Linked DNA regions of Homo sapiens. The protein of the gene in region 1 interacts with the protein of each later gene in a biochemical or structural test. Each region holds a gene or a part of one and is shown on either strand. Other genes may lie near its edges. The genes, in order: DDO and PEX5.

Evidence for each region.
Region 2: the proteins of DDO (region 1) and PEX5 form a complex in vitro, tested with the Homo sapiens proteins (2 studies listed by BioGRID, with this or other methods).

What each region holds. Positions count from the first base shown.
Region 1 is NC_000006.12:110,402,390-110,418,334, reverse strand, and holds the start of DDO (D-aspartate oxidase), read left to right. Parts: upstream 1-2,759; 5' UTR 2,760-2,868; intron 2,869-4,868; 5' UTR 4,869-4,872; coding exon 4,873-5,044; intron 5,045-5,506; exon of another isoform or gene 5,507-5,951; intron 5,952-7,757; exon of another isoform or gene 7,758-7,815; coding exon of another isoform or gene 7,816-7,825; intron 7,826-9,892; coding exon 9,893-10,001; intron 10,002-13,384; coding exon 13,385-13,561; intron 13,562-15,945. UniProt on the Homo sapiens protein: Selectively catalyzes the oxidative deamination of acidic amino acids. Suppresses the level of D-aspartate in the brain, an amino acid that can act as an agonist for glutamate receptors. Protects the organism from the toxicity of D-amino acids.
Region 2 is NC_000012.12:7,191,244-7,207,188, forward strand, and holds part of PEX5 (peroxisomal biogenesis factor 5), read left to right. Parts: coding exon 1-115; intron 116-325; coding exon 326-457; intron 458-7,767; coding exon 7,768-7,870; intron 7,871-10,507; coding exon 10,508-10,598; intron 10,599-10,997; coding exon 10,998-11,108; intron 11,109-11,368; coding exon 11,369-11,461; intron 11,462-12,188; coding exon 12,189-12,308; intron 12,309-15,945.

The DNA.
Region 1 (15,945 bases):
TGCAGTATGTCTTGGACAAAGTGGCTGCTCCATAAATGTTTGTTGATTGATTTTTATAGTAGGTGCTCAATAAAATATGTATACCACCTGTGATACTGGGAACTATGTATTTGGTCTTCATTCCCATTTCCTGACATATAGCTCCTAAAACCCTTGGAATCCTCAGAGTGATAAGAGTGTCTTTTGTATGCTAATGAGATATCTGGTGGCTGGAGCCCTGTAGTAAGCTTCAGGATGGGAGCTGGTCATCTGGAAATGACAAGACATGATTAGAGAGTGGGGACTTTCAGCCCTATCCCCAACCTCTAGGGAGAAGGGGTTGAAGGTTAAGTTGGTCACTAGTGGCCAATGTTTTAACCATCATGTCTACATAATAAAGCTTTCATTAAAAAAAAAAAAGGAAAAACACAAGACTGTGTTTAGGGAGCTTCCAGATGGCTGAATATGTGGAGGTTCCTGGACGTTGTGCCCCCAGAGAGGGCACGGGAGCTCCTTGCCCGTTCCCATATGCCTAGCCCTGGCCCTCTCTTCCACATGGCTCTTCATCTGCATCCTTTGTAATATCCATATTAATAAATGGGTAAAGGTAAGCAAAGTGTTCTTTTGAGTTCTGGAGCCACTCTAGCAAATTGAACCATTATTAATTGAACCTGAAAAGGGGCTTGTAGGGACCCCGATTTATAGCCCACCAGTCAGAAACCCACAACCTGGGGCTTGTGATTGGCATCCAAAGTAGGGTAAGTCTTGTGGGACTGAGCCCTTAACCTGTGGGATCTGACACTATCTCCAGGTAGCTGGTGTCAGAATTGAATTGAATTAGAGGACATGCAGCTGAAGTGTCTGCTAGGGAATCTGCAGAATGGGATGCTTGGTGTGTAGGGAGACAACCCCCACACACCTGGTCACAGAAAGTGTTCTGTATTCAGTGACTGTGACAGTATTGAGCATAGCCAGAGAAAAAGTTGCTTTTCCCCACCACCCCCTCACCGGCCCTCAGACCACCTTACAAAGAATTGTACATATCTCAACTTATCAGAGACCTACAACAACTTGCAAGGGATTCTTAGTTCATTCTCAGTTTTCAGATGGGCAATCCAACTCAGAAGTCAGGTGATTTGCTCAAGGTAAAAATGCAGGTCTCTTGAAACCAAAGTTTGTGTTTTGGTTAAGGGCTTGAGCTTTGGCTGGGCACAGTGGCTCAAGCCTGTAATCCCAGCACTTTGGGAAGCCGAGGCGGGCAGATCACAAGGTCAGGAGATCGAGACCATCCTGGCTAACATGTTGAAACCCCGTCTCTGCTAAAAATACAAAAAATTAGCCAGGTGTGGTGGCGGGCGCCTGTAGTCCCAGCTACTAGAGAAGCTGAGGCAGGAGAATGGCATGAAACCAGGAAGCAGAGCTTGCAGTTAGCTGAGATAGAGCCACTGCACTCCCGCCTGGGTGACAGAGCGAGACTCCATCTCAAAAAAAAAAAAAAAAAAAAAAAAGAGCTTGAGCCTTGACGTCAGATATCCAGACTGGATTTTACCATTTAAGAGACCCTGGACCCTTCCTTACTGTCTTGGAGCCTCAATGTACTCATATACAAAATGGGGATAGTGATAATAGTACCTACTTCATAGGGTGGTTGTGATATATGATGTCATACATGTGTCTAGCACATGGTTAATGCTACATATACATTATTGAAAATATTATTGTCACTAATTTGACACATCACACTGCCTCCCTGGAAACAAACTTGTTAACTGTGCCTCATGCCTAGAGCTCAGTAGACACTCATCAAATATTGAATCCCTTCTTTGAATATGTGGGCTAAATCAGGGATCCCAAATCCCCAGGCCACAGACCACTACCAGTCCGTGGCCTGTTAGGAACTGGCCTCACAGCAGGAGGTGAGCCGTGGGTGAGCAAGCAAAGCTTTGTCTTCATTTATACCCACTCCCTATCATTTGCATTACTGCCTGAGCTCTGCCTCTTGTCAGATCAGCTGAGGCACTAGATTCTTATAGGAGCACAAACCTACTGTAAACTGCGCACACAAGGGATCCAGTTTGTGTGCTCTTTATGAGAATCTAATGCCTGATGATCTGTCACTGCCTCCCATTACTTTCAGAGAAAACCATCTAATTGCAGGAAAACAAGCTCAGGGCTCCCACTAATTCTACATTATGTTGAGTTGTATAATTATTTCATTATATATTACAACGAATAATAATAAAAATAAAGTGCACAGTAAATGTAACACACTTGAATCATCCTGAAACCATCTCCCCATCCCCAGTCTGTGGAAAAATTGTCTTCCATGAAACCAGCCCCTGGTGCCTAAAAGGCTGGGGACTGCTGGGCTAAAGAATCATGTGGTTCTATCCTAGATTATCTCCTGAATAGTGTTTCCAGCTCCAATCAATCAACAACATTACTCAGCCCTCACCCCCTCCTTCCTGCTTCCCCCACCAGCTGACCCAGCAGAGCCAGGCACCCGGCTAACTGTGGGCAGCCAAACGAGGTTGGAAGTTGGACAGGCTCACCCATTATTCACCATACCTACAAATCAGCTGGAGAAAGCCCAGGCTGGCGGCCAGACAGAGGGCTCGTGGGCCAGAAAGGGAAGGGCTTGGCAGAGACAGCGCCATGGAGATGACAGGTTGAGGTCACTTGCTCCTTTCTCCGGGGCAATGGGTGACAGAGACAGCCATGCAGGCCAATGGAAAGGAAGACCAGGGGGAATGTCCTGAATCAAGTCACCAATGGGAATCAGTTTCGCTTTCTCTCTGTCTCTCAGGGCATGAGACCAGCCAGGCACTGGGAAACAAGGTTTGGTGCCAGAGATTTTGGTGGCTTCCAAGACTGCTTTTTCAGAGACAGGTACTTGAATTCTTGCTTTCAGCTGAGGGGTCGTTCCGTCCATGCTCTGGGAGTTTGGGAGTGTGTCTGAATAGGGTCAGGGGACAGTGATGGACAGGCCACTGTGCCAGGACACACCACATTGCTCGCTCACTCCTCCTCCCTGGCAGCTGGTTATTCTTAGCCACAGATTGCTTGCCCTTTCAACTTAGTTTATTAGAGCTGTTTTGAGAGAGTTGCTGGACATGGGAGGCTGATGTGAAACAGCGAAGTCAATAAGGTCACTGGTGGCTGCAGGACAGCTCTACTCAAGCTGGCCCCCACCAGACTGCTCTGGCCTGGGCCCGTTCCCTTCTCTTCCCTCAGCCCTGGCAGGCCCACTCTCTCTCAGCTGACCAGCCCACTGTACAGCAATCAAATTAACGTATCAAATTAGCACAGAAATGCATAGACTGCTCGAGGAATAGGAATATCACACTAAACTTCATTGGAGGGCTTTAAAGTCTCATAGTGCGAGAATCTTCAGAACTGGAAGAGAAAGCAGAGGCCACTAACAACCAAGCCCACGTTTTTCCTGCCAACAGCCCTTGCTGAGGAAGCTGCCCAGCCTTCCAGAGGAAAGGTGAACCTCTGTGTGTGGGTGGCCATGGTTTGTACCATGTGGCCCAGTACCCTGATTACTGTGCTTTGGACAGAGAAGGGCAACTATGCCAAGGGCACATTCAGAGGCTGGTTTAGCCCAGCAAGTTGGCCTGGTGCTAGAATTTTGTCCAACAGGGGATGCAATGACCAACTGGTACAACTGCATTTTCTCTCTCTGGAGTTTAAACCTGAGCCATACAGAAAGAGTCAGAGCAGGAACAGATGGGGAAAGCCAAAAACAGGGAAGCAAAGGCAGGCGGGGATGCTGACAGTGGAGCAAGGCTCCGTGGGTGAGGGGTGGGACAGAGGGTGCCAGCCTCAGGACACCTGGCCCGGGCTCCGGGATGTCTGTCCCCTGCATTTCCATTCAGACTCTCCCAAGGAGCCCCCTTTATGAGACCGCCTCACTGGGTCTCTCTTATTTACCACCCAAAGGAGCAAGTAATCCATCTGTTCTGTGTTACAGATGAGGGAGTGGAGGCTAGGAGACCACGGACTGCTCCTCAGGTTACAGAACCTGTCCAGGACAGACAGGGGGCCGGTGACAGTGGCAGATGGCAGAGGAGACTGAGTTCAGCTGCTGAAACTTTCTGTAATGTCCTTATTATTAGAAACAACTTTGTAGACAGAGTTGAGTTTTGAGTTGCTCATGGGTCATGCCCCTCACCACTGCTCCTCAGGTAGTTCTGGGAGCAAAGACTACAGCTCTGTGGTTTTCTGTCAACCTTCCCTAGGTTGTGCCCATAGGGAAAATGGTTTAGGAAAGGGGGATGAAGCCGGGCATGGTGGCTCACGCCTGTAATCCCAGCACTTTGGGAGGCTGGGGCCGGCGGATCACAAGGTCAGGAGTTCGAGACCAGCCTAGCCAACATGCTGAAACCCTATCTCTACTAAAAATACAAAAATTAACCTGGCGTGGTGGTGGGCACCTGTAATCCCAGTTACTCAGGAGGCTAAGGCAGGAGAATTGCTTGAACCTGGGAGGCGGAGGTTGCAGTGAGCCGAGATCTCGTCGCTGTACTCCAGGCTGGGCAACAGAGCAAGACCCCCTTTCAGGGGGAAAAAAAAGGGAAGGGTGAAGAATGAGTAGAAAACTCCTCCAAATGCAGACCTACTTACTGGCTAGGTGTTCTAAAGGCAAATCCAAGCCAGTTTTGTGTTACTCTCTAAAAGCCCATGGAGATCTTGTTGCTTATACACCAATATTTAATGGAAAGTGAGCTTATGGGGTTATCCTCTTTATCTCACAAGAAACACCAATAGGCTAAGTCTTATTCTGAGTGGCTGAAGACCTAAGGAAAAAACTGTCAAGACCAAACTTTGTCTGGATGGGAAAATCCTTAAAACAAGGGGTATAGCTCCCATTTCCCTCCTCACAGGCTCATGGACACAGCACGGATTGCAGTTGTCGGGGCAGGTGTGGTGGGGCTCTCCACGGCTGTGTGCATCTCCAAACTGGTGCCCCGATGCTCCGTTACCATCATTTCAGACAAGTTTACTCCAGATACCACCAGTGATGTGGCAGCCGGAATGCTTATTCCTCACACTTATCCAGGTGAGAGATTTCAGCTCCTCTATCAGATACAATAGATGTCAGATAGAATGATGTTAGTGGAATTCTATTGACAAAAGACAGCTGGCTATAGGTGTAAGTGTAATATGCAGGTTTTTTTCTTTTTCCTTTCCTCTTTTTCTCTTTTTTTGAGACAGGGTCTCACTCTGTCACCCAGGCTAAAGTGGAGTGGTGCAATCTTGGCTCACTGCAGCCTCAACCTCCCAGGCTCAAGTGATCCTCCCATCTCAGCCTTTCGTGTACCTGGGACTACAGGTGCACACCATCATGCCTGGCTAGTTTTTGTATTTTTGTAGAGACAAGGTCTTGTCTTGTTGCCCAGGCTGGTCTTCAACTCCTGACCTCAAGCGATTCATCCCCCTTGGCCTCCCAAAGTGCTAGGATTACAGCCGCCATGCTTGGCCATAATGTGCGGTTTTAACATCCTGTTGGTTCATCTCTTAGGACAGCCTCAGTTATGCTGCAGGACAGAAACAACATCCAAATCTTAGCAGCTTAAAAGGCAAAAGTTTGTTCTTGCTCACACTACATGTGGATTGAGCATCAGCAAGGGGCCAGCTTGTCATCAGGGACCTAAGCCGATGGAGCAGCTGTCATCCTGATTGTCATCAGCGCATGTGCCCAGGGGCGGAGGGGAGGGGACCTCTGAGGTTCTCGCCTCTGTGATTAAACACTCTGGACAGGAAGCGACTTTCAACGCTTCTGATGATGGCTCATTGGCAGAGCAGGCCACATGTCTCCACCCTCAGCAGGAGGCCAGAAAGTGTGATTCTATAGTTCCCGGAAGATGGATAGCAGAAGCATGGGATGAACAGTACTGACAACTACATGATTGGCGGCTCTGTCTTTCCACTGATAACAGTAATGACTATCAAGTCAGAAATTACTTGTAAGGGAACTAAAATTATCCTAACTTCTAAGCCTGTATAAGAACAATTATCAATATGTTTGTAATCAGTCAATCATAATTAGTTAATATGTATTAAGACCTGAAGATGCATGGATTTTTTTTTTTTTTTAAGACAGAGTCTTGCCCTGTCACCCAGGCTGGAGTGCAGTGGCACGATCCTGGCTCACTGACTCACTGTAACCTTCACCTCTGGGGTTCAAGAGATTCTCATGCCTCAGCCTCCTGAGTAGCTGGGACTACAGGCATGAGCCACCACGCCCGGCTAATTTTTGTATTTTTAGTAGAGACAAGGTTTTGCCATGTTGACCAGGCTGGTCTCAAACTCCTGGCCTCCCAATCCTCCCACTGGTGGGGCATGGTGGCTCACACCTGTAATCTGCTGGCATGCCCCACCAATGCATTGATTTTTGAACATGTCCATGCGTCCTTTCCTTTCTGTATTTTCCACTTGAAATGGGGGAGGAAGAAAATAGCATTAAATAGAAACCAAAATCACGCTGCAGTAATGAAGTTTATACTCACTGTCCCCATTTCCTCATTTCCACTCTATTTTTCCTCTTTAATTTTATTTTTTATTTTTTATCAAAGTTATATATGCCCATAGTTTAAACCGTCCTCCCTTCTGAAGTCCTTTTCCCTCTTTCTGGAAAAGTTAATATGCTGGACCTCCCAGACTGGTCCTCCAATTCTTTTAGCTTTGTCCCCCTCCTATTTATCTCTCTCTATTTTACTTTCTGGGAGACTTACTCAGTTTTATCTTTTACCTTGCTATTGAATTTTTTATTTCTACTATAACATTTCTAATATTCCAAAGCTCTTTTTTGTTCTCCGAATTTTCATTTGTTATAACATCTTATTTGTGTTAGAAGATTGCAATGTCCTCTCTTATCTTTATGAAGATACTAATAACAGTTTTTAAAAACTTTCTCCCTGAATAGTATCTGAGTATCTGTCATCTCCAAATTGTGGGAGGTTTTTGTTTTTGTTTTTTGATTTTCTCATTTTTCATGATAGAGGTTTTTCTTGGCCGTGTGGTATTCTTTACCTGTCTGCTGATGTTTATGAGTGGACCCTGAACAGCAGATGGGAATTTCTGAGTGTTTGCACAGGGCTTGTTGCCAGTGAGCTCACTGGAGTAAGAGGGCAGGGCCATTTATTTGGGGACATCTGTGATGTCATTCAGTTTAAGTTTTTCTTCTTGGGCGGGTCCTGTTTCCCAGGGAAGAGGGTTCCATGTCCTGCCTGGGGAAGATGAAGGCCCGGATGCCAGCTGGCATTTGAGAAGGTGACAGGGGAAGAGGCTGGGGTCCTAGCATCCAGTTTGCATGTGTTTCCTTAACACTCCTTTTTTCAGCACGGCATCCCTGCCTTTGCTGGTGCTTTGTGTTTTCCAGTCCAAAGACCCCTAAGAAAGAATAGACATATCTTTTATTAGGGTGGTAATAGCAGCGACCTTGGCATTGCAGGTCCAGGAGCTTGGCTGGTCAGCTCCTGGGAACTGCCTCCCAGGAAACAAACACAGGCACCTGGTGTATCCACCAGATGCCAGCTGATATAGTTTGGCTGTATCCCCACCCAAATCACATCTTGCATTGTAGTTCCCATAATCCCTACGTGTCGTGGGAGGAACCTGGTGGGAGGTAGTTGAATCATGGAGACAGTTACCCCATGCTGCTGTTCTCATGATAGTGAGTGATTTCTCAGGAGATCTGATGGTTTTATAAGGGGCTTTCCCCACTTTGCTGAGCTCAGCTCTCATTCTTCTCTTCCTGCCACCATGTGAAGAAGGACTTGTTTGCTTCCCTTTCCACCACGATCGTAAGTTTCCTGAGGTCTCCCAGTCATGCTGAACCGTGAGTCAATTAAACTTCTTTCCTTTATAAATTACCCTGTCTCGGGTATGTCTTTATTAGCAGTGTGAGAACAGACTAATACACCAGCTTACACTAAGTGCTTTTCTTGTGACGAGAGTTCTTGGGACCATTTTCCAGGCTCTCCCTTGCCTGTACCAGGCCTGAGTGAGTGTTCAGAAGGCTGCCAGCTAGTCATGGAATCATCCCTCAAAGACAGTCACTCATCTGAGGGCTCATAGGGCCATCGAGGCCAGAACTGTCTCTTTGGCCAGGTGGCTGGTTCTCCTGGACCAGGGTTTTTCTCTCTGTGATGCTGCTAGATAAAGACTTTGGTCTTCTCTTTGGGTTTCTTTCCTAGACACTATTCAGATGAGCCCCAGTCATAACTATCTCCTGTGCTCATAAATGTCAATACCATATGGAGACCATGCCTGTCCCATAGGGTTGTTGTGGGGATTAAATGAGTTGATACATGTAAAGCATTTAGAACAGTACCTGGCACATAGTAAGTGCTATATCAGCATTTGCTATTGTTCTCACCATTCCAGCTATAGTTCTGTTTTACCAGGACTTGAACATGAATTAGGTCATCAGGCTTCCTAGACCCACTGCTGGATGGGAATTGTCTGTTCTTTGGGATGACTTCTGCAGCATGTGAATCTCAGCCACTATTTTGTTTTTAAGGTTTGGGGTGAGAACAGGGAGTTGCATTTTAATACAACCTCACACAGTGGCATAGATTGTTGGGTAAAGTCTATTTGAGGCCAAATTTAGTTCTCTCTGCAGCTTATTATTTATTTATTCCTTATTTCTAAAGCAGCATCCCCACTGTGAAATTTTGGAATATAGTGTTAATTTCACATGGGCACATGTTTAAAGATGGCAGTACAGATTCGCTACTAAAGAAATATTTATTGGCTCTATAACAAGCGAATTGTCTGAAAATCCCGCTACTGACATGACTTCAGTGACCTGGGGGCTTCACCTGGGAAGCAGGATGTCTCCAAAGATCTTTCTATCTGTTCCTTGAATTTCAGGGACACCTCTCCAAGTGGAACCAACTTAGCATCCTCTCTGCCTCAGTTCCCTCATCTCCTCTGTGGCTTCCCTCATAGCAGCCCCTGAGGCTTATTGTTCCCTGGTCCCTGGCCTAACCCTAGCCAGTCTCTCATGATCCTTCTACAGGAATCAGACGGCCACATACTTCAACCACAGCTGGATTTGTCTGTGATTTTGGGTCATTCCTGCCGTCTCTGTGCCTACACTGGACACTTATTTTGAGGCTTAAACGCTGCCTCTTGTTTCCTCCCCAACAGGCCTGGCACTCTTCCAAAAGTTGTGTCTGGGTCCAACCCCATGTGCTCTGGCAGAGGTGCCTGGGGGATGGTATGGTCCCTGCACGCCCCTGCTGGCTTCAGGAGTGCTACTCTGGCTGGCACCTGATTCCATGGTGTGGAAGGTAATGGCAGCCCCTGCTGGGAAGTCTGGCCTGCAGGGGGCTCGCCTCCAGCATGCAAGCCTTGTTTCCTTGTACCAGGAGGCAAGCCCCTGGAACTCCCCATCGAGGTGCAGTCTGTTCTCTGTCCCGGTTGGCCTGGGCCCCACAGACCTGCCCATGTCATCCACTATGTTTTCAGCCCCCAAGAAAGAGGCCCTCTGTCCTTGGTCCTATTGTCTCAACTGTGTGGCCAGCTGGATCCCACAGCCATGAACTAAGCTCTGCTCAGGTTGGTTATAGACCTGCCAAGGACCTCTGGAATATACCTAGTACCAAAAACCACCTTCCAACTAGCTCGCATGCCGGGTTTTGCCCTTATTGGCCTGTTTTCCCTCCATTGATTAATCATATGAGCAGATTTGGACAGCATGTGTCAACATGCAAATCTCTTGTTGCTGACAGATCCTCTGCCACAATGTGGCACTTTATATTAATGTTCCTCCCTGCCTCCTTATTTTATTTTTGCCTCCTTATTTTTTTTCCAAGTTTCTAGGAAGGAGCTTATTTGAAGCACTGTCATTATCATCATTTTCCTTTCTGTTCCACTTTGCTTTTCTCCATGATTACAGATACACCCATTCACACGCAGAAGCAGTGGTTCAGAGAAACCTTTAATCACCTCTTTGCAATTGCCAATTCTGCAGAAGCTGGAGATGCTGGTGTTCATTTGGTATCAGGGTAAGTGAAGAAATTTGAAGTTATTTTAGAGTGTAGCATGATCTTAACAGGCATTAGAGTTCAACATAAAATATTTACTGAGTAGCTGTTGTGAGCAGAGTGCTGACTTAGATGCAGGAGGATTCGGAAAGAGCATTATAGGCTTTACCCCAAAGAACTGAAGAAAGACAAGTTATGGTATTAGACTTTTTAACAATAAACAACAATCAGAGTTTCTCATCACAAATACGATTGATTTTGGGTTTCCTCAGAGACCATGCAGTGATTTGCAAATTTGGTTAAAAAAACACGCAGGAGGTAAATGCTGGATTTGGGTGATGTGGGGATGGTACAGCCGATGGAAAGCAAACAGGTATGATGTTGGGATGGCTGCAGAGACCTAAGGGAGAGGGACTTCTTATTTATTCGGTGTCCTTGGAGAATGAGATATTCCAAAGAAGGAAATTTTGTAGGTCACTAAACTTGCCTTTTGAAGTGCCATGTGGAAAAAAATATTTCTGAAACTGTTAGCACACTTCTATTTCATTTTTAATGTATAATTTCAGTAGGCATGCATAATTAAATGAAAATTTGAGAATAAATGCTATTTGACATTTCTATTAGTAAGACGAGCACTTAAAACATGACATCTTTTAATATCTTCTTAAACTGAGATCACTTAATATTCTATCACTTTCAATTTACTTCTCAGTGTCATCATATGATGTAACATACATGTCATTGGTGCATGTTACACTTGTAACATACATGTGTTATCCTGTGTGATAACACAGTCTTTCTGCGGCCTTCTGAAAAAATGTGTCTTATCTCCTCTTTTGATGTCAGGCTGCCCACTGGGGTTTTTTGCTAGTCTAGTGTACACACTTGCATTGGGTGAATTTCTACCCTTTTTCTCTTCTTGTTTTTCCTCACCATCACAAACACCAAGATGATGCTGATGTCAGTAATTTCCCAAAGCCCCTCCCCAAAGTAGCAGTTTTGCTTTCCTATCAATCTATGGATTGATTCTTCTGTATAACTAAATCTGGAGCCAGTTGATGAGCCAAGTAGAAAAAACATTTTCTTTGATTTACGGTCACACTCTTTGTCCAAATCCAACATGAGTCCGTCTAATTCACAAATTTTGGCTCTAAGTAATTTTTGGAAACAGCCATGTCCAGAATTAAAATCCCCTGTGCATCTTTGGCGTAAGTATATAGCCTTACTCATCTATTTATTCCTTCAAAACAACATATTCAGCATTCTTCAGTATCAGGTTCTTTCTTAGGTATTAGGGATATAGCAGTGAGCAATTTAGTAATACCACTTGGCATATGCTTAACAAATATGTGTTGAGTTAATTTTTAAGGAAGACACAGTCCTGCCCTTATGTAGCTTATGGTCTCTAGGGAATGCAGTAAATCAAATGAGTTACCAAATTCACTGGGACATGAGTTACCAAAAGGAAGAGGCTAGGGTGCTATGGAAGCATATGTCTGGAGAAGAAACTTGCTCTGGGAAGTGATGAGAAGCCATCCAGATCAAGGTGTTTCATCCGAGACCATCAGGAAGAGTGTAAGTTAGTCTGGTGATGTTGTAGAGGTGAAGTGGGGGCGGGGCAGGGTGGGAGACGAAGGAGACAGCATTCCAGGTGGAGGAAACAGCATACACCTAGACCTGAGTCTAGGGCGACTGTGGTGTGTGGGAGGGACTGAAGGAAGTCCAGAGAAATGGGAAGCCATTGAGGGAGTTTACACAGTGAAGTGACTGGTCATAATTGCATTTCAAAAATATGTTTTCTATAGTGTGGAGAATAGATTTGTGGGAAGAGTTGATGATGAGATAGATTGGGTGTGGACTGTAGAAACAGAGAGTAGATGGACTTGAGAAATGCCTAAGGGGAGATTTGATAGGACTTGTCAGTTGATGGTGTATGAGAGGTGAGTAGGGAGAGAGAATCAAGGATGATTCTTGGGTTTCTGGCATTAGCACCTGCATGGATGGGTACCATTTTCTGAGTTAGGTAGGATTGGGAAAAGAGTGGATGTGTGTGTGTGCATGCATGCGTGCATGTGTGTGTAAATGCATGAGACTTCTAAGTGGACTTATCTAGTGGGGAGTAGGTAACATGGGTCCGGATCTGTTTTTGGAGCTCAAGAGAGAGAATGGACTGGAGATATAACCTTCTAAGTGCTCAGGACTGGAAATGTAGCCTTCTAAGTGTCTGGCCTGTAGGTCATGGTGAAGATATGGAAGAGGGCAAGCTAGCCCAGCGCAAGAGTGGGCCAGCACAGAACCCTGCAGTAAAGGACATTTGTGTCTTCATGGGGACTGCTCTGAATCAATTACCTAGAGATACATATTCCGATGGGGGAATTATTAGCAACTATGCTTAGCACTCAGATTATTTTCCTTGCTATTTTTGAGCAATGATGATTTATAACTTTTTTTTTTTTGAGGCAGGGTCTTACTCGTCTAGGCTGGAGCGCAATGGTCCAATTCAGTTCACTGCAGCCTCGACCTCCCTGGGCTCAGTTGATCCTCCCACTTCAGTCTCCCCAATAGCTGGGACTACAGGCTTGTGCCTCCACACCCAGCTAATATTTGTATTTTTTGTAGAGATAGGGTTTCACCTTGTTGCCCAGGCTGGTCTCGAACTTCCCCTCGGCCTCCTAAAGTGCTGGGATCATAGATAGGTGTGAGCCACCATGCCTGGCATTATAACATTTATTCATTTACTGATGAAAACAACCCAATATTTACAAATCTAAACATTTGCATAGCAGCTATTAGTAGTACTATTACAGCCTTCTTGTTAACAACCAAATCTAGGCAGGAGCTTTTTAGAAAAGGAGTATTAAATTCCATCTTTAAAAAGCATGTTACTTTTAAGATGTTTTATTTGCCCAGTCACCAACATCTGCTATTTAGCTACTGAGTTATCTGAACCTAAGAGAATAGTAAAATAGATCATTTTCTCTTTGTGTTTATAGAAACTAAATTTTTAAAATGTTCTAGGCCAGCTGTAGTGGCTCATGCCTGTAATCCCAGCACTTTGGGAGGCCAAGGTGGGTGGATCACTTGAGTCCAGGAGTTTGAGACCAGCCTGGGCAACATAGTAAGACGCTGGCTCTACAAATAATTTTAAAAATTAGTCAGGTGTGGTAGCAAGCGCCTGTGGTCCCAGCTACCCGGGAGGCTGAGGTGGGAGGATTGCCTGAGCCCCAGAAGTTGAGGCTGCAGTGGGCCATGATTGTGCCACTGCACTCCCACCTGGGTGATGGAGTGAGACTCTGTCTCAAAAATAAAATAAAATAAATGCTCTAGAGAATGTCATGTGAAGTTTACTAGAAATATGTTATTTCACAAATTTCAGGAAAAAATGTTCACTTAATACGTTTGAGTTGGCAGATATTTCAGAGCACTCCGACTGAAGAAGTGCCATTCTGGGCTGACGTGGTTCTGGGATTTCGAAAGATGACTGAGGCTGAGCTGAAGAAATTCCCCCAGTATGTGTTTGGTCAGGCTTTTACAACCCTGAAATGTGAATGCCCTGCCTACCTCCCGTGGTTGGAGAAAAGGTCAGTTGAAATGCTCCCTGATATTTCCTTATCTGTCATAGCCATAAATCACTTCGTAGCTATTCATAAAATACATACTGAAAAGTCTCTGGCATCCCTCAGAGCTCTTTCGCGTTGCCTTGCCACTCACAAATGGCTAGGGCTTTGTAAAACAATCTGAAGACAGTGTTTATGTCACAAGGACTAAGTCACACCATGCTTCTAGTAATTTGTCTTCTATTTTTGGTGTGCACTTCGATGCCTGACTTATTCCCTACCCTTCTTGCCCCAGGTAAAACCCTCTTATTGAAACAGTATCTTAGTTTTCCTCATCTGTAAAATGGAACAGTTTGGAGAATATATTTCCAGCTACAGAATGATATGATTTACTCTAATTCTTTGGACGAGAGAATCTTTGCTTATTATAAATTATTTTTGAATTTTTTCTCATTTTTGGTAAAGCAAAAAAATTTCATTATTTCCTTTTGTCTTAAATAAGAACTCTGAAACTAAGGACCTATCCAAATTATGTCACTCCTTCCTCATTAAGTTCAGCCCGTGATACCTTGAACTTGCATTTCGGCTTACTTTTCAGGACTTTCAGGAAACTAGTACTTAGCTTCCAGTTAGGAAACACATCAAGAGTATCTTCATTTGAGATACATCAGTAAATCTGTCTTTAGTTTAGTCTGGACTTGCAGGCATGTTGAGAGTTGTGAAATATTGATCCTTTCAATTCCCATATGTGTATATTTTGGTAAATAGGAACGATGTGAATTATTGTGTAAATGTTGGGAAAGTGACTTGAAGTAGGCCAGGGCAACAGTGATCTGGTACCAGATGTAGGTTATAGGATAATTGATTCATATAATTCATTAATTACACAACTTTTGTTGAACGCTTATATATATCTGGCATTATGCTAGAAGCTGGTAAAAAAGAAGGATAAAATATGATTTCTTTTTAAAATAATTTCATGGTCTATTGTGGATGACTGTGTGTGTATGTGTTTGCATATTAATTAACAATGATGGTAACACACATGGTAAAATAAAGTACAGACTTATGCAGGTTAGAATGGGAGCAGAAAGGAGGAAGCCTAGATCTGCTAGGCACATGTCAGTGGCATCGTAATCTAGTTTTGTAGCTTTTCAAGTGCTCTTCTCACTTTTACCTCTTAGCAATTTATATGGGACATTTTGCTTCTGTAAGTTCTAGTTTCATAAAACCCATGCCTTTTCTGGCCTTGTTCACCAGCCCATAAACCACTGTTCATATGCCAAGTTTGGACTTGTCTACATCAGCTGATAAACGTATATTTTGAGCTATCACATGATGGAGTTGCCCACCAGCCAACAAGCAAATTTTAGCAGCATCACCATCTTTCCTGAGTGGCAATAGTGTGTAGTGTTGAATTTTCCCCCTTCTAAAAATGACTAGAAATACAAAATTAGAAGCATTGATGCTAGTGATAAGGAATTGAGGCATCATATAACTTATCTTAATAAAATCCAGAATAAAATAAAATAAAATAAACAAAAAAAGTTAAAACATGTGGAAAAAGGCAATAAAATAAAATAAAATTTAGGTAAGTGGAAATTATTAGGCATGGCAAAAAATGGCAGAGTTTCCTTTCAATACAATGCATAACATTTTTAGATTATGACTCAAAAAGAGCTCAAAATGGAAGAACATGTACAAAATATTGTGATAAAAGGTGAGGTGTCATTAAGGAGTTTAACTTTTTTTGGTATTATTAGTGGTTTGGGCTGAAGTTTCATTATTGCCACCAAGTCCATTGTGTGGCTTTCTCATCTTGGATTTTTGTCTTAATGATCAGTAAGCTTTCTAGAAAACCTGGCTGGAGCCCTGTGGTCTCCAGCAGATCACGGAGAGGCAGATGAGTGAGAACCTAAGAGTGTTGTTCTCCCTCAGAGACATGGTCAAGGGCTGATTAAGGGCTTTCCTGCGTGGGGATGGCCAGGGGTATGTGTTAGGGATGGTAATGGACACAGAGCTAAGGGAGGTAGAGAAACTCTAACAAACTCTTCATACAGATTCCTAACATTTTGCTTCATTATTTTCGCTTTCTTTTTACTCCTTATACATATTTTCTTTCAGAACCATTTGAAAGTAAGTTGCAGTTTTCCTCTTGTGGCTCAGGCTGAAGTGCAGTGGCGTGATCTCAGCTCACTGCAACCTCCCGGGTTCAAGTGATTCTTCTGTTTCAGCCTCTCAAGTAGCTGGGATTACAGGTGCCTGCCACCACGCCCAGCTAATTTTTGTATTTTTAGTAGAGACAGGGTTTCACCATGATGGCCAGGCTGGTCTCGAACTCCTGACCTCAGGTGATCCACCCGTCTCGGCCTCCCAAAGTGCTGGGATTACAGACATGAGCCACCGTG
Region 2 (15,945 bases), on another chromosome or scaffold:
CAGGACCAGAATGCACCCCTTGTGTCCCGTGCCCCTCAGACCTTCAAGATGGATGACCTCCTGGCTGAGATGCAGCAGATTGAGCAGTCAAACTTCCGCCAGGCTCCCCAGAGAGGTGAGTCCAGAGTCTAGTGGGAGGGGAGATCGTTTTCCATGTAGCCAGGGCCAAGGAAGGGGGTTCCATTGGATGCTGCTGGCATTGGGGACCTGAGATGCAGAAGGAGACAAAAGTAACAGAGTGTTTTCACGTGGATTCAGGGTTCTTTAGGCATGATGGAATGGTATGTATGTATTCTTTCTTAGTTTTCTCTCTCTCTCTTTTAAGCCCCTGGTGTGGCAGACTTGGCCTTGTCTGAGAACTGGGCCCAGGAGTTTCTTGCAGCTGGAGATGCTGTGGATGTAACTCAGGATTATAATGAGACTGACTGGTCCCAAGAATTCATCTCTGAAGTTACAGGTGAAACTTGTTATGGGAAAATCTATATTGGCTTCTATGGGACAGAATTCTATACCCTTCCCCTGTTCACGTTATAGTGTGATTACGATTTTTCTGGTCTCATGACTCATTTCTAGAGGGGTAGGGTACTGAACTCAATTTCCCTTAGGTGATAACGGAATGTAATGTATATTAAAGAGAGGACTGGGTTTGTACTGGATAAGAGATTTTGGATAGAGAGAACGAAGAGTTTGGTTGGCCTTTTTACTTTATCACTGTGGTTTAGTGGAGAGGATCTACAGATTGGATGGATGGCAGTGTTGCCGAGGAAGAGAGTATTCACTACAGCACCTGGGATTCTGGCCTTAAGTTATTTGGAACAGAATTGGGGCCTTCAGAGTGTTATTGTGAAGTTCCAGTGCCTGAAGTGTATGGCTTTAGAAGGTAAAGACCATACCATGATGATGATAATAAAAATTAATAACAATAGTTACGTTCTAGGCCTTGTGTTACATGCTTTGAATGCATTATCTACTTACTCTCCATGAGAACCCTAGAGGTAGTTACTGTTTTTAGACCTAGTTTAAAGATAAGAAAATTGAGGCTTAGAGGTGAAGTGTGCCCAAGGTTACACAGCTTTGTCAGTGGTAGAGTTGGGATTTGATCCTGGATTTGAATGATTCCTGACCCTGTGGCCTTAACTGTGATGCTATACTGTCAGGCCTGCAATTTATCTTCTTTCTTGCTTTGCTACAGACTTAAAGGTTTCAGCCTAATTTTTCCTCTTTGAAAGCATCCATTGCTCCTGCATCTTTTATGATTGATTCTTCTTGCCCTAAGCCTATCTAATCAGGTACATGGTGGGAAGGGCAGTCTCTTCAGCTTTCCTCTTCCTGATTGCTCTCAAAAGTTAGCCTTTTTCCTGTTTAAGATATCAAGAATAACAAGAGATACACATAGAGAAAGTTACCAAGTTCCAGGATCTCGGGGAGTCACATCATCATGGTTCCTGAATTTTTCTGAGATGATTAAAGGGACTGAATTGGTTTCTACCCCCACCATTTTAATTTATGTTCTTTCTTCGTTTGCTACAGATTTCAAGGTCTCAAGTCTAATTTTCCTTGAGAGCATCCATTGCTCCTCGCATCCTTTAGGATTGATTCTTCTTACCCGAAGCCTATCTGATCAGGGACAAATGTGTGTGAAGGAGGCCCATGTTTAGGATGGGCTTCTCCGCACACAAGAGAAAAATCCCAAATCTAAAAACTAAAACTCACCTTTAATAAGATCTGTGGGTCTCTTTTATCACGTGTCTCTTTCCCACCCATAAGTTGGAGTTAAGGTAGAACAGTAGGTGCTCTTGGCTTTAAGAGTGCTAATCACTTTATCTTCTTAAGCTCATTAGAACTTCACAGTAACAGTAACACAAGGTGGATATCCCACCCCCATTTTATAGATGAGGAGACTGAGATTTGGAAAAGTTAAATACTTTGTGCAAAATCATTGAATAATAGAGATGATATTCAAACTCATGTCTGTGTGGCTCTTGAGATTCTTTTTTTTTTTTTTTTTTTGAGACAGGGTCTTGCTCTCACCCAGGGTGGAGTGCAGCGGTGCAATCTGTACGCACTGCAACCTCTGCCTCCTGGCTTCAAGGGATTCTCCCGTTTCAGCCTCCTGAGTAGCTGGGACTACAGGCGTGTGCCACCATGCCCGGCTAATTTTGGTATTTTTAGTAGAGACAGGGTTTCACCATGTTGGCCAGGCTGGTCTTGAACTCCTGACCTTAAGTAATCCACCACAGCCTCCCAAAGTGCTGGGATTACAAGCGTGAGCCACCGCACGCGCCCTCACGTTGAGATTCTTTGTGAAATTGCCGCAAGTTAAAATCTGAACCATAGCAAAGACCCTCTCCAAGACAGAAACTCAGTTTTTCACATAAACCTTAGACTTAAGTGCTATCTCTTATCACAGAGAGGCTTCTGTTGTAATGTGGGCATTAGTCATTTTTGATAATTCAGAAAAATCATTGCTACTATGAGCGTTGAGATGGATGAAATTTTTGCTGTAATTACCTGAATTGCATGCAGCCATTGAAATCTTCCTTAACTTGAAATGAAAAAGAACTTTAGAAAAACATGTTTTATCTGTCTCACCAGTTAAATGCTCTTAGTAGAGCTCTTCTAGTATTTTGTAGATTCTTTTGGAATCGTGCCTGTTTCACAGAGGCAGAGACATGCAAACCTTAGAATGGGAGTTGAGCTGTTTGAAGTCTGCCTTCATAAAAATGTCTTATTGCAGCAGTATATTGCTTTGCATGTAGTAGGCCTCTGGTATTGAATGAATGAATTGAGATCTGGGAGAAAAAGCTAAAGGAAAGGAGTTCATTTTGTCGTAACTGACTTTTTTTTATTATCCTTCATTTTTAATTACAGCATTTGTGGTTGATACAATTGTATGGGTTAGCTATGGCTTTATAGATAAGTAGATTTTGAGATGAAAGAAGGTTATACTTTTTAAGTTCTTATTTTAAAATCTCCACTGTTAAGAGTCAAAATCAAGTTTAAAAAGAATGTTGCAGCTCAATTATTTAAATTTAAATTTTTTATTTGGAAGTACTTAGTTTCACTGGAAGTTGAAAAAAAAAATGTATAGGAAGGTTCTGTATACCCTTCACCCAGTCTCCTCCAGTGGTAACATTTTACATAGCAGTTATGCAGAGATCAAAAATCAAGAAGTTGCCCTTGTTTCAATCCTCAGAGTTTATTAGGTTTCACCAGTTTTACATGCCCTTATTTGTGTGTGTGTGTTTTTTGCAATTTTATTAAATGTGTAGATTTGTGTAAGCACCATCATGATCAAGATACAGAACTATTCTCTCACCACATGAAGTTCATTTTTTTAGCTTACCTTATTTTGTAATGGAATCCCCCCGTCTTAAATCTTCTGGGTCAAATAATTCTCCATCTTGTGTTTGCTCAGATCTAGAGATAAAACACATCTTCAGGGTTCTTAAATTTAGACAGCTTCGGTTGACATGGTATGTGAGGTTCATATGATAATCGTGAGAGATAAACCTGCACTTTCATGGGAAAAGCCATGGATAGCAGTAGCAGAAGATAATTGGCAACAGATCTTTTCTGGATGTTGGAGGAGAGGCTTTGGAATAACAGTCTCATTGTGATGTTTTCTGCTTTTGTTATAGGTTTGCCATGAGCAGACTAATGATAATAACTAACATTTGTTACTGTATTCATTGGTTTTCACCGCAGCCCCTACTGTTATCTCTGCTTTAAAGATAAGGACATGGAAACTTAAGAAGGTTGAGTAACTAGTCTGAAGATGCACAGTGAATAAGTGATGGAGTTAGGATTTAAATGTGGGTAGACTGACCCTACAACTTGTATTCTTCTCCACAGTGCTGCTATTTAGCAGACACAGAAACTTTCATGAGTAAGAGTAGCAAGTTCTGAGTTTTTGACTTTTGAGCTTGGGGAAGATGTGCCTAGAAGGAATGAGTAAACAACGAGAAATTATATGAGGTGCACATTTTGAGTGGGGTATTTGGTGTCTAGGTTATTCTCACTCTACTAATCTGTATGACCTCAGGCAGTGCATCCCCTCTGTAGACCTTAGTTGCCTTGATCTCAGATGTATCCACATGGATCTGATTTTCTGTAGGAATTTCTCAAAGATTGTGAAGGCAGTGTGTTACTCTTTTGATTCTTTCGGTTATTTGACTCTTGTTGGAGTAGGTTCCCAATGCCAAGAAATTCTGGGTCTTGTGGCGATTTAATCTGGCCAACTACCAAATTATAGGTATTTGAGGATAGTTTTTCTCAGCTCTGGGATTTTTTTTCTTAAACTGCCTCATATCTATTGTTAAGTCCTCATGTCTGTTGTAAAAATTCAAAGGTGCTTTGTGTTTTTTCTGTTTTTTTTTTTTTGTCCTTGAGAGGACCATTTCATAGGAATTTGAAATGTTTTCTGTGAATTTGAGGAGCACTTATGGCCAGAATATGCTTTTGCAAAATACTCTAGTTGAGAGTTAGAAGTGTTTGGAGAGTTGAGGAGGTAGTAGTTATTTTTCAACAGAATGGAGCTAAGAATTTCAACTAAGAATGGAACTAAGGAACTAGGAGATCTTAAAGTCTCTTTGAGTATTAAGCATCTCCTTTCCGTCTCCACACTTGAGGCAACAGTCTAATTGGGGCAAATGGAAGAGAAATGCTTCCTGTAAGAGCTAGTGAGCAGAATCTGTATTTAATTTTTGAGAGTCCTTGAAATTAACAGATGGATCTATGGTCAAAAAAAATTGCCAACCATATTTCTTATTACATTATACATTATATATTATATATATTATATATACATTTTACATTATATATAATGTATATATAATGTATTTCTTATGTTATAACGTATTTCTTATTACATTATGTTATATATAATGTATTTCTTATTACATATGTTACATATAATGTATTTATTACATTATATATTATATATAATGTAATATATGTTATGTAATAATTATATATGTCATATATAATTTAATTATATGTCATATTTAATTATATATGTCATAATTTATATATGTCATATATAATTTAATTATATGTCATATATAATTTAATTATATATGTCATAATTTATATATGTCATATATAATTTAATTATATATGACATATATAATGTAATAATTATGTGTCATACATATATGTGTCATATATAATGTAATAATTATATGTGCCATATATAATGTAATAATTATGTGTCATATATAATGTAATAATTACATCATATATAATGTAATAATTATATATGTCACATATAATGTAATAATTATATATGTCACATATAATGTAATAATTATATATGTCACATATAATGTAATAATTATATATGTCACATAATGTAATAATTATATATGTCACATATAATGTAATAATTATATATGTCACATATAATGTAATAATTATATATGTCACATATAATGTAATAATTATATATGTCACATATAATGTAATAATTATATATGTCACATATAATGTAATAATTATATATGTCACATATAATGTAATAATTATATATGTCACATATAATGTAATAATTATATATGTCACATAATGTAATAATTATATATGTCACATATAATGTAATAATTATATATGTCACATATAATGTAATAATTATATATGTCACATATAATGTAATAATTATATATGTCACATATAATGTAATAATTATATGTCACATATAATGTAATAATTATATGTCACATATAATGTAATAATTATATATGTCACATATAATGTAATAATTATATATGTCACATATAATGTAATTATATATGTCACATATAATGTAATTATATATGTCACATATAATGTAATTATATATGTCACATATAATGTAATTATATATGTCATATAATGTAATAATATATGTCATATATAATGTAATAATTATATATGTCATATATAATGTAATTATATATGTCATATATAATGTAATTATATATGTCATATATAATGTAATTATATATGTCATATGTAATAATTATATGTCATATGTAATAATTATATATGTCATATATAATGTAATAATTATATATGTCATATATAATGTAATCATATGTCATATACAATGTAATAATTATATATGTCATATACAATGTAATAATTATATATGTCATATACAATGTAATAATTATATATATGTCATATACAATGTAATTATATGTCATATACAATGTAATTATGTTATATATAATGTAATAATTATATATGTTATATATAATATAATAATTATATATGTTATATATAATGTAATAATTATATGTTATATATAATGTAATTATATATGTTATATATAATATAATAAGTAGTAATTACTTATTATTTATAATTAGGTGTATTCTGAGAGTCTTGATCTTTGTTTTTCACATTTTGACATTTCATGCTCAGATTTTGAGACTACTTTGTTGACATTATTCAGGCAAAGTTTCAGTTAAAATGGAGTAGAAGTTTTTGTACTTTAATACCGAAGGGGTAGTAAAAGCAAGGGTGGTCAGATCTTGAAACTGGGGACAAAGACTGCTAGTATCAGCTAATATTTTCACACCCCTGCCCAAATGTCCCTCTTTAATGCAAATTGGAGTTAGTAGGTTCTCAACAAGAGAGTGGAGTTCCCCCTTGGGAACTGTCCTTGTCATGGGCCAGGAGTGGGGAATAGCAGGGGAAGGTGGTGGCAGACTAACTAGTAAGATTAGTTCTGGACACAGGGCAGAAGGAAAGAACACCGTAGGCTTGTGCCTTCTCTTTGTTTCCTTGTGTTCTTTAGTGCCCGCAGTCAGTCTCCTTGTTTTTTTTTTCTGGCCACAGGATAGTAAAGGGCAAAGTCCTGGAGGATGAAAAACAGTTCAGCACCCTCATTGAGTTTGTTGCCTTGATAGGTTAATTCTGATGTTGCAGCAGTCCCCTTTGTCACTAGAGCTTCTGAGACAGTTTCTAAAATTAGACTGAAAAAACATAGCTACTCAAAGATAATCAAAAGTGAGAAAAGTCAGAATAGTGTTTACTTCTGGGGGCTGGGAGACTGAGGGAGCCTGTGAGGGAACTGTAAACGTTCTGTATCTTGATCCGGGTGGTGGTTATGTGAGTGTATCAAATGTGGAAGTTAATTTAGCTGTACACTTAAGTTTGGTAGACATTATATGGTTTCATATTTGTATATTACATTTCAATTAAAAAATGAAAAAACCCACCAAACATCCATAGGGAAGAGCAGACCTATGTGTCTTTAATTCTAGCCTAGCATTCCACTTCTCTGATTCTCTTGGTAGGCAAATTACAATGAAATAAGGCTCCTTTGGCCGGGATTGTGTGAACTCTGGGTAGAGGGAGAACAGACCAGTGCCTTGGTTAAGGAACAGGAGCCCTTCTGTGCTCCCTTCACTCCTTACTGGCTCCCTGCTGTACTTCTGAGGAAAGTGAAAGCCCTTCCGCTTCCTATTTCTTATTGAAATATCTTGCACTTCAAGAAAAAGAGTTTGGTTCTTAATCCTTTCCTGAGATTCCTTATTTGATCTCCCGTTCCCAACTCTCAGTAAATTTCTGCCCCAGGCTCCTTGAGAATGGGTTGGATATTGAGGATGTTGAAAATTTAGTACTATATTCTTTTGACCAGGGGTTTCTGAGGGAGTCAGCAGAGTTTTGTCTGCTTTGGTGTGGCTAAGAGGGTCAGTTGAATATGGGCATCTCTTTCCCTTTCCTTGATCCCACACTGAATGAACCTGTGTGATTTCCCCACTTCTCTGCTCCTTGCAGACCCCTTGTCTGTGTCCCCTGCCCGCTGGGCTGAGGAATATTTGGAGCAATCAGAGGAGAAGCTGTGGCTGGGAGAACCTGAGGGAACAGCCACCGATCGCTGGTGAGTTCAGATACCTCTTTCCGAATCCCGTGAAAGGAGTATGGACAGTTTTCCCAGCCTCCTCCATCCACGTTCTCGAACCAACTTACTTTATTCTTTTTTTTTTTTTTTTTTATCATTCTTGGGTGTTTCTTGCAGAGGGGGATTTGGCAGGGTCATAGGACAATAGTGGAGGGAAGGTCAGCACATAAGCAAGTGAACAAAGGTCTCTGGTTTTCCTAGGCAGAGGACCCTGCGGCCTTCCGCAGTGTTTGTGTCCCTGGGTACTTGAGATTAGGGAGTGGTGATGACTCTTAAAGAGCATGCTGCCTTCAAGCATCTGTTTAACAAAGCACATCTTGCACCGCCCTTAATCCATTTAACCCTGAGTGAACACAGCACATGTTTCAGAGAGCACAGGGTTGGGGGTAAGGTCATAGATCAACAGGATCCCAAGGCAGAAGAATTTTTCTTAGTACAGAACAAAATGAAAAGTCTCCCATGTCTACTTCTTTCTACACAGACACAGCAACCATCGGATTTCTCAATCTTTTCCCCACCTTTCCCCCTTTTCTATTCCACAAAACCGCCATTGTCATCATGGCCCGTTCTCAATGAGCTATTGGGTACACCTCCCAGACGGGGTGGTGGCCAGGCAGAGGGGCTCCTCACTTCCCAGTAGGGGCGGCCGGGCAGAGGCGCCCCTCACCTTCTGGACGGGGCGGCTGGCCGGGCGGGGGGCTGACCCCCACCTCCCTCCCGGACGGGGCGGCTGGCCGGGCAGGGGGCTGACCCCCACCTCCCTCCCGGACGGGGCGGCTGGCCGGGCGGGGGGCTGACCCCCACCTCCCTCCTGGACGGGGCGGCTGGCCGGGCGGGGGGCTGACCCCCCGCCTCCCTCCCGGACGGGGCGGCTGGCCAGGCGGGGGGCTGACCCGCACCTCCCTCCCGGACGGGGCGGCTGGCCGGGCGGGGGGCTGACCCCCACCTCCCTCCCGGACGGGGTGGCTGCCGGGCGGAGACGCTCCTCACTTCCCAGACGGGGCGGCTGCCGGGCAGAGGGTCTCCTCACTTCTCAGACGGGGCGGCCGGGCAGAGACGCTCCTCACCTCCCAGACGGGGTCGCGGCCAGGCAGAGGCGCTCCTCACATCCCAGACGGGGCGGCGGGGCAGAGGCGCTCCTCACATCTCAGACGATGGGTGGTCGGGCAGAGACGCTCCTCACTTCCTCGATGGGATGGCGGCTGGGAAGAGGCGCTCCTCACTTCCTAGATGGGATGGCGGCCGGGCAGAGACGCTCCTCACTTTCCAGACTGGGCAGCCAGGCAGAGGGGCTCCTCACATCCCAGACGATGGGCGGCCAGGCAGAGACGCTCCTCACTTCCCAGATGGGGTGGCGGCCAGGCAGAGGCTGCAATCTCGGCACTTTGGGAGGCCAAGGCAGGCGGCTGGGAGGTGGAGGTTGTAGCGAGCCGAGATCACGCCACTGCACTCCAGCCTGGGCACCATTGAGCACTGAGTGAACGAGACTCCGTCTGCAATCCCGGCACCTCGGGAGGCCGAGGCTGGCGGATCACTCGCGGTTAGGAGCTGGAGACCAGCCCGGCCAACACAGCGAAACCCCGTCTCCACCAAAAAAATACGAAAACCAGTCAGGCATGGCGGCGCGTGCCTGCAATTGCAGGCACTCGGCAGGCTGAAGCAGGAGAATCAGGCAGGGAGGTTGCAGGGAGCCGAGATGGCAGCAGTACAGTCCAGCTTCGGCTCGGCATCAGAGGGAGACCGTGGAAAGAGAGGGGGAGAGAGACCGTAGGGAGAGGGAGAGGGAGAGGGAGAGGGCTTACTTTATTCTTTAAGATTTCCCCTTGGGTTATTACTCCTGTGAATTTATGGTTGAAATGTAGTCAAGGACACAGTGGTTGTGTGCCTGTACTCAGGAAGCTGAGGTGGGAGGATTGCTTGGGCCCAGGAGGTCAAGTCTAGCCCGAGGAACACAGTAAGACCTTGTCTTTAAAAAACCAAAAGCGCATGCATGTGTGCGTGCACACACACACACGCACACACATATATACACACATACACATATGTACACACGCATACATACACATACATGTGCACATACATGTATATACACACGTATACATATGTAAACATGTAGATACATGCGTACACATGTATACACACACATAGACATACATGTATACACACATACACATACACATGTATATACATACACACATACACGTATATATACATATCAGCTATATTTGGGAGGAAGGGAGTTTTCAGACTTTTAAAATATATGTATATAGGTAAATATATATATATTTTTCAAGAATCCTAACTATCCTATATGACGTTCATAACTTCATCTTAAAGTTCATAATTTTACCTTGTTCCCTTCTTAATTTTGAGCCTGCTACTATCCCATCTGTATGCAAAGATATGTTTGGGAAAGGGAGAGCTAGAAGGATGTAGCTAGTACTTTCACACTCCTGCCCAAATGTCCTTCTATAATGCAAATTGGAGTTTGTAGGTTCTCAACAGGAGAATGGAGTTCCCTCACAGGAACTGTCATTGTCATGGGCTAGGAGTGGGGAGTAGCATGGGGAGGGTGATGGCAGACTAATGTGTAAAATTAGTTCTTACCCGTTCCAGGTATGATGAATATCATCCTGAGGAGGATCTGCAGCACACGGCCAGTGACTTTGTGGCCAAAGTGGATGACCCCAAATTGGCTAATTCTGAGGTGAGCCACATCCCTCTGCTGCTTTGCCCAGCAGAGCTGGTTTTGGAAGGCAAGAATCTTGCTTTTCTTACCCCAGTTTAGTTTAAAGAGAAGGAGAAGAGATCTTAGGTCTCTTCGTTCCTGTCTATAGAACAGAGACTTAAGATCCTGCCTCTTCCTTCTAGTGTTCATTCCCTCATCTCCTTGCCTACTAACTCTTTTTTCTGATGCCTTTGCAAGTCTTTAGAGCCAGAAATCCCTTTCTTTTTGCTCTCTACCTCTTTTAGGGTCTTTAGCATATCTTGTCTGCAGCTAGAGATGGTCAGGGGAGGGGTGAGTACAGGGTCCTCTTGGGCATGGTTGAGAGTGCACACCTGGAAGTCCTTTCCCAAGTGGCCTGTGTGTGTCTCTGTGCCCCAGTTCCTGAAATTCGTGCGGCAGATTGGCGAAGGGCAGGTGTCCCTGGAGTCCGGTGCAGGGTCGGGCCGAGCTCAGGCAGAACAGTGGGCAGCAGAGTTTATACAGCAGCAGGTAGGACATTGTCACTTTCCAGTCCCACTTCAGAGCCAGCTGATGCCCCAGGCCATGGGTTCAGTGGTCAGTGGTCCCAGATGGGGAAGGATAAGACCAGCTTGTCTTGATAGCATCCAGGTCCCAAGTGGGTGGGAAAGAGATTCTGAGAATGATTTTCTCAGAAGTACCCAGGTTGGTGGTGGTTAGTGGGTATTTAGTGTGCGTCTGATGGATAGAAAGTTGGTGGTAGTGGTACTGACCATCCTTTTTTGTCGCAGGGTACATCAGATGCCTGGGTTGACCAGTTCACAAGACCAGTAAACACATCTGCCCTTGATATGGAGTTTGAACGAGCCAAGTCAGCTATAGAGGTGAGAGCAGATAGTGCAGGAGCAGACACCCCAAAAGAAAACACTCCTTGGAGTGAGTGGGTGTATGAACATCAAAGATGATGCAAATTGTATTTCATAGTGGACCTGGATCATCTGTGTCAGAGTTGCTTGGGGATGGGGTGGGTGCTGTTGAAAAATGCAGATTTCTGGGCCAGGCATGGTGGCTCATGCCTGTAATCTCAGCACTTTGGGAGCCCGAGGTGGGTGGATCACCTGAGGTTAGGAGTTCGAGACCAGTCTGAACAACATGGAGAAACCCCATGTCTCTACTAAAAATACAAAATTAGCGTGGTGTGTTGGCGCATGCCTGTAATCCCAGCTACTTGGGAGGCTGAGGCAGGAGAAATGTTTGAAACTGGGAGGTGGAGGTTGCAACGAGATGAGATCACGCCATTGCACTCTAGCCTGGGCAACGAGAGTGAAACTCTGTCTCAAACAAAAAACTAAACTAAACTATGCACTGCACTGCACTGCACTGCACTGCACTGCACTGCACTACATTACATTTCTGGCCATCACCCCAGACTACTAAATCAGTATCTGGGGATAGCATCTGGCCATTTGCATTTTAAAAAACTTATTCAGATGATTCTTAAACATATTGAAATTCAAGAACTGCTGCCTTAGAGAATCCCAGCAGAGCTGAGTGTGGGGTGGGGTGGTCATGATGGATCTCCTTTTTCTATCTGCTTTCCCTTCCTTACAGTCTGATGTCGATTTCTGGGACAAGTTGCAGGCAGAGTTGGAGGAGATGGCAAAACGGGATGCTGAGGCCCACCCCTGGCTTTCTGACTATGATGACCTTACGTCAGCTACCTATGATAAGGTGAGGTAAAAACTCTTAGTTTTTCAGGTTCCAGAACTTCCTTCTTTTTAACGTCTTTCCTTTAATCCTGAATTTGAAGGGTGCTTTTAAGTATTTTCTTGAGTCCCTTTCCACGAAAAGAAGTCTGAATAATTCCCTTGCCCTTCCTCTTCAGTGATTGAGTATAAACTTTATTCTTGGGATATAGATGTTAATGAGACTATCTTTGTCAATAACGACAGTCCAGTACATAACACCTGTGAAGGAGGTTTGCACATGCTTGCTGCATTAAAAGCACAGAGGAAGTAGCTCTGCTTGGAGGTCAGATTGGGAGCTTTTTGAGAAGACTGCTGACTCCTTTGGTGGGGAGTGTTAGTGGACAGACTATCCCTTTGCCTCCACATCTTAATATCTGTTTACTTTTTAAACTCACATATTCATTTTAAGTTCTTATCTTTTATAGGTAGTAGCCACTTGCCCTAATTTAGGGTTTTCAAAGAATTTATATTAGATAACTTAAATATTAGGGAAATTTCTTAGTAGTATGAAAGATGATTGCATTTTGCCTATAGCATGTGCTGTTGACTTAGAAGCATATGTTACTTCTGGGGTCTTACTGAAAAACAAATCTACCTGTGGGTTGTAGGATATTTGGGGATGTGTTTAATAACTGAGCTCCTGAGTTGAAACATGAAGAGGGGAAAGAATCACTTGGTTTTGAAAAAAGGCAAAACAGGAACTGGGGATGTGAGTAGTGATGTCTTTTTCTCAGTTCAGATCTGGTTGGGAAAGTATTGTGGGGCTGGAACCAGGGCCTGAGATGCAAACCAGGGTGCTGGAGATGGATCTTGATGTAATAAGGGAGCTATGCAAAGATGGGAAGATGCAGTTCAGAAAAAGGCTAGAGTTTGAGAGCCAGTGAAGAACAGTATTAGGAAAAATATGATTTTGCTTATTATTCCAGTCTGATCTGGATTTTTCTAACTATCCTGTGTGATATAAGGGAAAAGACAGCTGGGACCTTGCCATGTATTTCACTAGACTATGAGTTCATTGTATATAATTTTGATAAGGAAGAACTGAAGGAAATATAGATAACACTTTTGTTATTATTTTGTATTAACAATTTGATAAGTCACATAGGCCCCATCAACTTATAAATGGAAAGTTGTACATTTATGTAAAAATGTCCATGCTTTTCATACATATAGACATAATACTAGTTTTGTATGAGCAGCATTTTCTTTTATCATTTATTACTCTCGTATTTATGACATGCTGGCCAGAATACATTTTTTTTTTTCAGACACATAGAACAATGTGACAAATTAGAAAGCAAATTTTTTTTTAGAAAAAAAATCACATTTGATCAGGTTCCAAGAATAGAAATGTGGAAAGGATAGTCTTTTCGATAAATGGTATTGGAGAAACTGCATATCCATGTGCAAAAGAGTGAAACTGAACCGTTACCTCACACTATGTACAAAACTTAATCCAAAATGGCTTAAAGACCCAAATGCAGTACCCAAAACCGTAAAATGCCTAGAAGAAAACATAGGGAGAAAGTTTCTTGACATTAGTCTTTGCAATGATTTTTGGGATATGAGCTTTTGGTGTCATATCCAGAATACATTTTTTAATTAAAAACTTTAAAAGTATGTTTGTAGATTCTTGAGCCCTACTTGATATCATTGATACTTTGGGATATTGCAAAATTAGGACTAGAAATACTTGCATTAATGTTCCTCAAAAAGTGATGTAGTAAGCAATTAGACAGTATCTGGCTTTAAGCTAATATTGAATTCCATGTCAATAGAACTTTTTAAAAACAAAGGACTTGACTCTTGATTGTTACATAAATTCATGGATCTCTTTGAATGCACTGTTTGTTTATTGATAGCCCTTATATTTTCAGAGACAATTTACATTGCAGCTCAGGCAGATATTAATATACTATTATGATAAAAGAGAAGTATGTGATGGGACAAACTCTTTGTAGTGATCATTTCTGCAGTTTGATCCTATGAGATTTTGGAGCAGACCAGACCGTGTATCAGATAAAATTAATGACTTGGGTTTGGCTTTTCAGGATGTAACAGTGAAGCCAAGCTTATCCTGTGTTCTGTGGGTTGTTGAGGGATCCCCCAGAGTACTCTTTTTCCATCATCTATGCAAATATTCTAATTTTGGAAAATTCCTCTTTGATCAGCAATTGATGAGACTTCAAGGAGGGTAGATAATATGGATGAGAGGAAACTTAGAGAATCCTGTGGTTGCAAGATGGTGGCATTGAGTTGTTGTATTATCTAATGAAGACACCTGAAGAGCATTCGCATCACTTCTGGCTGTCATATACAGGCCATCATATCTTAAGGAAGTATCTAGAGCAGTGAGGATAATAGCTATTTACAGATAGTATCTTAAGCTTTTTGGTAAGGCGTTGGTGAAGATTCCCATTTGATGTTCTCAATGGCTCTGAGAGGCAGGAATTACTTTTATTAGGAAACTGCATTATAGATGACAGTAATCTCTGTTTTCTGTAGAGTGGCTTAAAACACGTATTAATGATGAACAATAGTTGAGGTTGAATGCAGAAGGATTTATTTTATTGAACTGTAATAGTCTAGGGCAAGGGCCAGCACACTGGCTTGTGGGATAAATCTTTATGTTTTTAGTGATCCACTAGCTGAGGATGGTTTTAACATTTTTAAATGGTTGGAGAAAATCAAAAGAGTAATACTTTGTGACAAGTGAAAATTATATAAAATTCAAATTTTAGTGTCCATAAATAAAATGTTATTGGAAGACAGCCGTGCTCATTTGTTTACTTATGTCTGGCTGCTTTCGCACTACAACAGTAGAGGTGAGTAGTTGCAGCAGATCCACGAAGCCTGAAATATTTATTATCTGGCCCTTCGCAGAAAAAGTTTGCTGATCACTGGACTAGCGTCATTTTCTGCCTTCTTAGTTTTTATATTATGCAGAGATGTCCAAAAACACACTTGTTTTCAATATAAATATACTTTCTATACATTTATCTCAAATCTACTATAATATGTCTTTCTTCTTAAACCCCCCATTGTAATTATTTAATTTTCATTTGTGACAAATAATTTGCATCTGATCATGACTTAGAATTTTGCTGGTAAGATTTAAGTGTTTTTGATTCTTTATCATTTTCACAATAATAATGAAAAAGGGCCTCATGTCTTTATTTTGTACAGTTTTATCTGAATTTATTCTTAACTGCATTTAGAAAGACCTCCACCTGTTGTTTTGCATCTTGTTTTCGTTCTGGTGTATTATTTTATGATGGTAACTACTCTCCAAAAACGGACTTTTTATTTGCATGTCCCAGATTTTGCAGCTTACTAGTGACTTCCCCTTTACCTCATTTCTTCTCTGCCTAGTGTAAAATGCCAGTTGACAAAGCTTTGCAGATAGTATCGTAACTCTTCTCTAAAGTGAGAAATCCTCAGCTGGAAGAGAATGGTGTCTTTCTGAAGTATTCTCTGCCATCTGGATTTTGGGATCCAGCTTTTGCTTACTGTCAGATACAGATTAATATTCATGATTATTAAGAATGAAATCGGGGAATAAATTAACATTTTCAAAATGCTTGAAAATGTTTTATCTAGTTGACATGTGGAATGACTCT